Linked DNA regions of Homo sapiens. The protein of the gene in region 1 interacts with the protein of each later gene in a pairwise test. Each region holds a gene or a part of one and is shown on either strand. Other genes may lie near its edges. The genes, in order: ACOT7 and NCOA5.

Region 1 (3,811 bases):
TGGGGGTTCCAGAGGCCACATTAAAAAGTCCCCGAAGCCAGATATATTTCCTGGGGAGCAAGTCCCAGCAGCCAGAGTCGGGCAGGGATATCCTTGAGCCTGGCCCAGAATAGAGGCCACGCTGGGCCGCCTGGGAGGGCATTCTGACCGCAGGGCAGCACTTGCCCCGGAAGTCCCCGGGGGTTTCTGCAGCCTGGTGGCCAGTGACATCGATGGTGACACCTTCCCGGGGCCCCAGGTCAGCTCTTGGCTTGAGTCCTTCCATCCCGTAGCTATCCCCCAGGCAGGGTGTCTCATGCCTGCCTATAGGGAAGAGCTGAGCTCCCTGAGATTAAGGGATTATGTTGAGGCCAGGTAGGAGGATGGAGCCCAGGCCGGGGAGGGTGGTGGGGGCAGAAGAGCAGCTCTGGGTCAGGAAGCTTCTGCCAGGATGGACTGTCGTGCCCTGGGGAGCGTGGGGCGTACAGAGAGGTTGGTTAGGGTTGAGGGGGAGAGAGGGACATGGGAACAATGTATGGGAACTGGTGACTTTGGACTTTGTCATGATTCACAGAGAAATGGGGCTGGTGCTTTGAGCATGGAGGACTCTGGCCAAGGGGTGTGGCATCCAGCAGCCCAGAGGAGGAAGCTTTGGTCCCGTGGGCGAGACCAGTGGGGCCAGAAGGGAGGCTTGGCATGCAGTCACATAAGATTCAATCCCACCAAGGGGCACGGGCAGCTGCCCTGTGTCACTGGAGCCCCTGAGGGTGGGAATGGCTGTGGAAGGTGATACAAGGTTCTGTCTTGGTGCTTGGAGCAGTGTAGTGGGGCAGCTGTGGCTCCGGTGGGCACCAGCAAGGCCAATGAATGGACAGTGCAGTTTGCAGATTTGGCCCTGACCTAAGGAAGGGCAGAGCCAGCCGACACCCACAGCTCCTGGAAGGCAGTCTGCGGCCTCCCCCGTGGGGGCACAGTGGCTCTGAAGCCTTTCAGCAGGTGCTGCCACTCCCGGCCAGGAGAGAGCCCGCCTGGGCGGGGGCTTGAACTCATGGCCACCAAAATCCTTCAGTGCTGAATTTTAGCGTAGATAAACCTGCTCACTAGAAAGATAAACATTCATGGGCAACTAACGACACATTCTAATATTCTGTTATTTGAACATCTGGTAGTCAGCCAAGCCACTGCTTCCCCTAACCAAGTGTCTGCCTGCTGACCACAGAAACGCCAGTGTCCCCCGCCCAGCCGTGGGGTGGAGGCCGCCCTGACCCCCGCCCTCCCTTCTCCACAGGCTGCGTCATCACCATCTCGGGACGCATGACCTTCACGAGCAATAAGTCCATGGAGATCGAGGTGTTGGTGGACGCCGACCCTGTTGTGGACAGCTCTCAGAAGCGCTACCGGGCCGCCAGTGCCTTCTTCACCTACGTGTCGCTGAGCCAGGAAGGCAGGTCGCTGCCTGTGCCCCAGCTGGTGGTGAGTGCGCATCCTTGGAACGGCGGCCCCTCCCTGCCAGGCAGCCCTAGGGTCCCTGTGTTTGGGCCTCCAGGGGGAATCTGTGCCTGCATGAGTCCTGTCCTGTCAGTAGGGGTCAGAGTAGGGCTGGGCCTGGCCACTGCCGTGACCGGTGACCTCGGGCTGCGGGGCTGATCCGGTGAGGCCTTGAGAAGGAACGCTTCATAACCAGCGGGTAGGCCTTTGGGCTGTACTCCCAGGGCCCGTGGGGTGGGGCTGGGCAGACAGGACAAGAGAGACAGACCCCTTTAAGAGCGCCTTAGCATGGCTGCTGCCTGGGCGTCCAGGTCGCCTCTGAGTGTGGCGCCTTGGTGTTCCCTGGCATTGTGTAAGAATGCTGGAGGGGGATGAGGACCGTGCCCTGGGTCCCCCATCCTCTGCTGAAGGGCCTGCTGGGAAGCTGGAGGGGTGGGCTCCCTCCAGGTGGTCCTGGCCTGCAGGTCCTGCCTGATGAGACCAAGCCAGGCTGGTGGGCTCTGGGCTGAGGGTCCCAGCCCCTTGGCCTTTCTCCTCCTCATGCAGGGCAGGTGGGGTGGGCGTGTGCAGGCCACACGCACTCGTTCACAGGGGCTGCTGCCCCCAGGTGTCCACATCCCCTGAGCTCTGCCACGTTTGAGAGCTGGTGGTTCTCCGCCTGGCATGGACTCTGTAGGGTCACAGACATCGACAGGGTTCGCGCGGCCCAAAGAGGCAGCTTCCCTGTCTCTGTCATAAGAACAGAGGTTCCCCATCCTGGCTGACCCCAGGGGCTCTGCAGCCTTTGGGGTGGTCCTGATTTCTCTTTGAACCAGCTCTTGTGTCTGTCACTGAGGGGAGCAAGAGGAAAGCAGAGCTGTAGGAGCTTCCTGCCCCTCCGGGGAGCGAGGATGCGGGAACAGAGCAGCTGGGAGCAGGCGGGTGCCCGCAGGCCTCTTGGGAGCTGGCGTTCTCATGGAAGTGGCCAGGCAGGCACCACGGCCCTGCGAGGCTGACCCCTGATTCCAGAGGTTCTCGAGGCCCCTGCCCCCGCGGCGTCTGCTCCCCACGCAGATCCGCAAGCATTTGCTGCTCAGCCTCCCGGAGAGGAGCGTGCACTGAAATCTCTGGGGCGAACATGCACTGAAAACCCATTCCTCTCAGAGCCTGGAGCACGGCCTGTCGCTTCCCCACATGGCTGAGGAGGGCCGCCGAGTCGCCCCAGCTGCTTTGTTTCCCAGTCGAGGCTGAGGCCCCTCCAAGCCCCTCTCCCAGCCCTGCCCCTTCCTGGAGTGGAGGAGCTCATGCCTCACCAGGGCCCGTGGTGGTAGCGCCAGGTGTGGTGTGTGAGCTGTCAGGCCCAGCGAGTACCCTCCGCTGCCAACTCCAGGCCAGCTCTTCGCTGGAGTTGGGTGCCGGCCTCTCCCAGGTCGGGTGGGCTGAGTAGAGGAGCTGATGGTGAACCTGGACTTGATGGATGAGGAGGACTCGGCCAGGCTGAAAGGAAGGAAAGTGAGTGGTGGGTGCCCCCAGCACGGCACTAACACAATGCCTGTGACCCACCCTTGCATGACTCTCGTGACCAGGCCCCTCTTTGACTTGGGGCTTACGAGGCATGCTCCCCTTCTGGTGCGAGGACTGCTCCATGCCTTCAGCCCCACAGCCTCTTCTGTGGCAAAGTACCCTAGGCTGCCACCCTCCTGCCCCATCAGGGCTGGCTCTGCTGCCTGCTCCTTCCTCCCTCATCTGCCCCCACCCCTCCCCATTTACTTGTAAGCCTACCCGCCTTGCCCTGGCCCACCGTGCCACCCATCGGCCCTTGGCAGGATGGTGTCCTCCCTCCACGTCGCCTGGGCTGGTCCGCAGTCGTTCCTCAGCCCCTGACCCTGCTATGAGGCTCCAGCCTCCTCTGTCCTTGACCTTCAGCCCTGTGTCTGGTTCTCCTTTCACCTTGGACACGCCTTCTCCAAACTTGCCTGCTTTTCTCGGCCATGAAGTATGGGCTCCACTCCCACCTGGGCCCGCTCTGGTCTCTCCCCATGGACCCGACGCCCCTCCCATGACGCTTTTCAGCGTGGCTGCTGTCTGTCCTGATGCTGAATCCCCCACCTGACCCAGGCACATTTCCGAAGCTCTCTCCTTCCCCGCCCCCTACCTCTTCCTGCCTCCTGGACAAACTTTCCCAGTTCTGTCTTCCCTCTGCGGGCAGCATGGACAGACGCAAGGACACGCCCTGTCTGCTGTCCGCTCCCTGTCTGTAGCACAGCTGACCAGGCCCTCAGTGAAGCCTGCGCTCCCTGGATGGGGGACCCTGTAGTGTCTGTAGGGATACTCCAGCCTCCCCGGCCACCACACGGTCCCCGAA
Region 2 (3,811 bases), on another chromosome or scaffold:
TTTTATGGCTGAATGATACCACATTATATGAATACACCACTTAAAAACAAATCCACACAGTGGCTTACACCTGTAATCTCAGCACTTTGGGAAGCCAAGGCGGGAGGATACCTTGAGCTCAGGAGTTCAAGACCAGCCTGGGCAACACAGTGAGACTCCACGTCTATACAAAAAAATTAGCCAGGTGTGGCGGCATATGCCTGTAGTCCCAGTTACTTGAGAGGCTGAGGTGGGAGAAGTACTTAAGCCTGGGAGGTCAAGGCTGCAGTGAGCTGTGATCATGCCACTGCACTCCAGCCTGGGAAACAGAATGACACCTTGTCTCAAAGAAAAAAAAAAAAAATCCATTAATCTGCTGATAGACATCTGGAGTGTTTTTACCTTTTGGTTATTGTGAATAGTACTGCTATGCATATTCATGTACAACTGAGTCCCTCTTTTCAATTGTTTTGAGTGTATACTCAGGAGCGGAACTGATAGATCATATGGTAATTCTATGTTTAACTTTTTAAGGAACTGCCAAACTGTTTTCCATAGTGGCTATACCAATTTGCATTCCTACCTACAATTTCTCAGAGTTTCAATTTCTCCATACCTTTCCAACACTGTTATTTTCTGTTAAAAATGTTGAAAATCATTCATACATTCAGCAAAATTTATTGAGCAGCAGCACATCTATCACTTGACAGTCACCAGAAATAAAAGGCTGATAAAATGACTGCTCTTACAGAGCTTTCAATTAGTTTAGCAGAACATACATAAAAAGAACTCAGGAAAAAACAAGCAGAGTAACTACGTATGTACCTGTACATAGGATCTCGGGAGTCTCTCATGTCTCTGTATCTGTCGTACATGGGGTCTCGCTGATCTCGAAAATCCCTAGAGTCTCTTAGATCACGAAAGTCTCTAAGATCCCTCACGTCCCGAACGTCGCGCACACTCCTGCTGTCTCTGTGATCCCGCAAATCTCTACTATGTCTGTGGTCCCGCAAGTCTCGGGGGTCTCGAATGTCTCTGCTGTCCCGGGCATCCCGGCCATTTCTGCCATCCCTGGGCTCTCTCCTTGGACTTCCTCGAATTGGGGATCGATCACGCCTTGAATCTCGACTGTCTCCAAAGCCATATGGATCCCTGTGGGAGGTAGCAAGAAAATGCTAAGACAAAGAAATTGAAAGTAGCCAACCCATCAGCTCTTCATATGAGAAAACCCCCACCCTCCAAGCATTCTTCTCTAAAACAGGGCAGCCAAACAGAACATGACTCAACATTTAAGGCCAGTCATCCATCTGGTCAGCAAATAGTCTAGAGGTTCCACAATCTCAAAAGATTAGGACATCAAAAGAATGCATGACCAAAAACTGAAGGTTTTGACTGGATAACAGTATTCATCAGGCTTTCAAAGTGAAAGTGTCTTTCCACCAGACTTGCTTGAAAGAGACTTTACAAGGGGTAAAAAGTTGGAGTGACAGAGTAAGGAGGCAAGACTCATGAAGAAAAAAAGAGCGAATGGCACAATCTTATAAAAGTGATCAAAGGAACTGTCCTTAAAGTACGGAAAATGCACTTGAAGTATCTTGGCAGGATAATAAAATTAAGGGGAAAAAATTACTATAAGATACATACAGTAAAGGACCAAGAACAATCTGTTTCTCTGTTTTGTCAGGGCTATTGAGTATTGGTATCTCTCAATCTGAGGGTTTACGTAGAAGCTGATTCCATTTTGCTCAAGATGGTTTAAAAAAAAAAAAAAGAGAACAAAACAAAACAAAAAAACAACCTGAACAGTGAAGTCACAGATATGCTTTGTCTGCTCTGACTCAATGTTCTTCATGAGACGTTTCAACCCACTGGAAACTCCTCTTCAACATATTTAAAATTAAAAACTTCTTACCCCAACCCCATCAGTCCCATTCCCCACTTTTCCACTTTTGACAAAATCATCTTTCCACTTATCAAGTTTTAAGTTCTTGAATATTAACTATGCTTTTTCTTCCCCCATCCCAATAAAGTCACTTGTGTCCCGTTCACTTTTTCTTTCCATTCCCATTGGATTTGTAAGTCCAATCCAAGCCCTTATTTCTATTCTGACACCAACAGGTTTCCAAAACACAAAATTAAAAATCAACCTACTTGCTTTCAATTCATTCAACACATAAATACACTAACTATCCTAAAATGCCAACTTCTATGTTAGAAAGCCTAATAAATCTGACAGCTATTATCTCCCTCTCATTTCTAATTCAACCTCCTCAGTTCTACTTAATTCTTATAACTCACAAGATATAATCTATCTCAATAGTTTTATTTATTTGATTTCTATACTTGGAATATTTTTCCTGCACTAATCCAAGTACCATCCAATCCACACAGGCAAGTTCGTGTCCCATGTCTTCCAAGAAACCTTCCCTACCCTTCCTAACTGCTGATCTCTTCTGCTCAGCTCAGGGCACTTTCTATCTGTATTACTCATCTTGATCTGGCATTTACCCTTTTACAACAATGTCTTATGTCTGACCCGCTTTAAGGATTACCTTCTCCGTAAAACCTGCCCTGAACTCTTGATCTTCCCCAACAACCATGCTCCTCCTCCAGTCCTTCCCATCTCAGTAAATGGCACATCCAACTACTCAGTTACTCAAGCCACGAAACTGGATGTCATCTTTCCCTTAAAGCCTCATCCTCCCTTCCAACCACATTTCCAAATTTTCTCCATTCTTTCTCAGTTCTGCCCACTTTCCTTTACCTTCTTTGGCAAAACTGAAGGCCAGCGCATAATCATCTCACCCTCAAACCACAGCAAGAGCCTTCTAAAGCAGTCTCCTCATTTCTGTTTTTGCCTCTTTCCAAATCTTTCTCCAGAAAGATCACTCTACAGTGATCTGTTACGTATGTAAAGCCCTTCCCTGGTTTCCCACAGTATGTATTTATTTTTATAGGGATGAGATCTCACCTATGCTGCCCAGGCTGGAGTGCAGTGGCTATTCACAGGTGGGATCACGGAACACTACAGCCTTGAACTCCTGGGCTCAAGTGATCCTCCTGCCTCAGCCTACCAAGTAGCTGGAACTACAGATGTGTGCCACTGTGCCAGGCTCCCACAGTATTTAGAATTCAATCTACAACCTCTACCAATGCCATGAAGGTCCTGTATAATCTTGGCTCCTGTCTTCTCTAACCCTGTCACACCCTCTCCCTAGTTCACCACTCTTTGCCACACCGGCCTTTCAGCTCTGCCTAGCCAACGTCTTTCCTGATCCCTTTACGTGAGTAGCAGGAAGAGATCTATACTCCTCTTCCAGGTCTCAGCATATAAATATCCCCTACTCCCTGATTGTTAGATTCAATCAAAGTTTACTTTCTGCCCCTAAAATTCTCTCATAGCACTGTTTTCACTTTTGTCATTTATCACAAATTGACATTACATATTTACTTAATGTCTGTCTGCCCTACTAGACTACAAGTGCCACAAGGACAAGAACTATGTCACTTTGATTCTGCACTACAAACCCACTATGTAGAACAATGTCTGTTATACGACAGATGCTCTATATGTATGTTGAATGAATCTTGCTCCAGTACAAACTTCTATAACCGCACTTACCACACTGTTCTGTAATTGTTTACGTGGCTTCCCTACCAAATAAGAAGTTCTCTTGAAGGCTTTGTAGCTCTAGGATACACCATAGGAGTTCAGTAAATGTTTAATGAATTGAATTATTCTACTAAACTGTAAGCCTCTCAAGAGCAGGCAGCATGTTTTGCTCATACTTTTGTCGTCTACCATGGTTACACACGTTAGGTATTCATCATG

Evidence for each region.
Region 2: the proteins of ACOT7 (region 1) and NCOA5 interact in a two-hybrid assay, tested with the Homo sapiens proteins (one large-scale study listed by BioGRID).

The regions. Positions count from the first base shown.
Region 1 is NC_000001.11:6,278,743-6,282,553, reverse strand, and holds part of ACOT7 (cytosolic acyl coenzyme A thioester hydrolase), read left to right. Parts: intron 1-1,267; coding exon 1,268-1,452; intron 1,453-3,811. UniProt on the Homo sapiens protein: Catalyzes the hydrolysis of acyl-CoAs into free fatty acids and coenzyme A (CoASH), regulating their respective intracellular levels.
Region 2 is NC_000020.11:46,069,406-46,073,216, forward strand, and holds part of NCOA5 (nuclear receptor coactivator 5), read right to left. Parts: intron 1,132-3,811; coding exon 805-1,131; intron 1-804. UniProt on the Homo sapiens protein: Nuclear receptor coregulator that can have both coactivator and corepressor functions.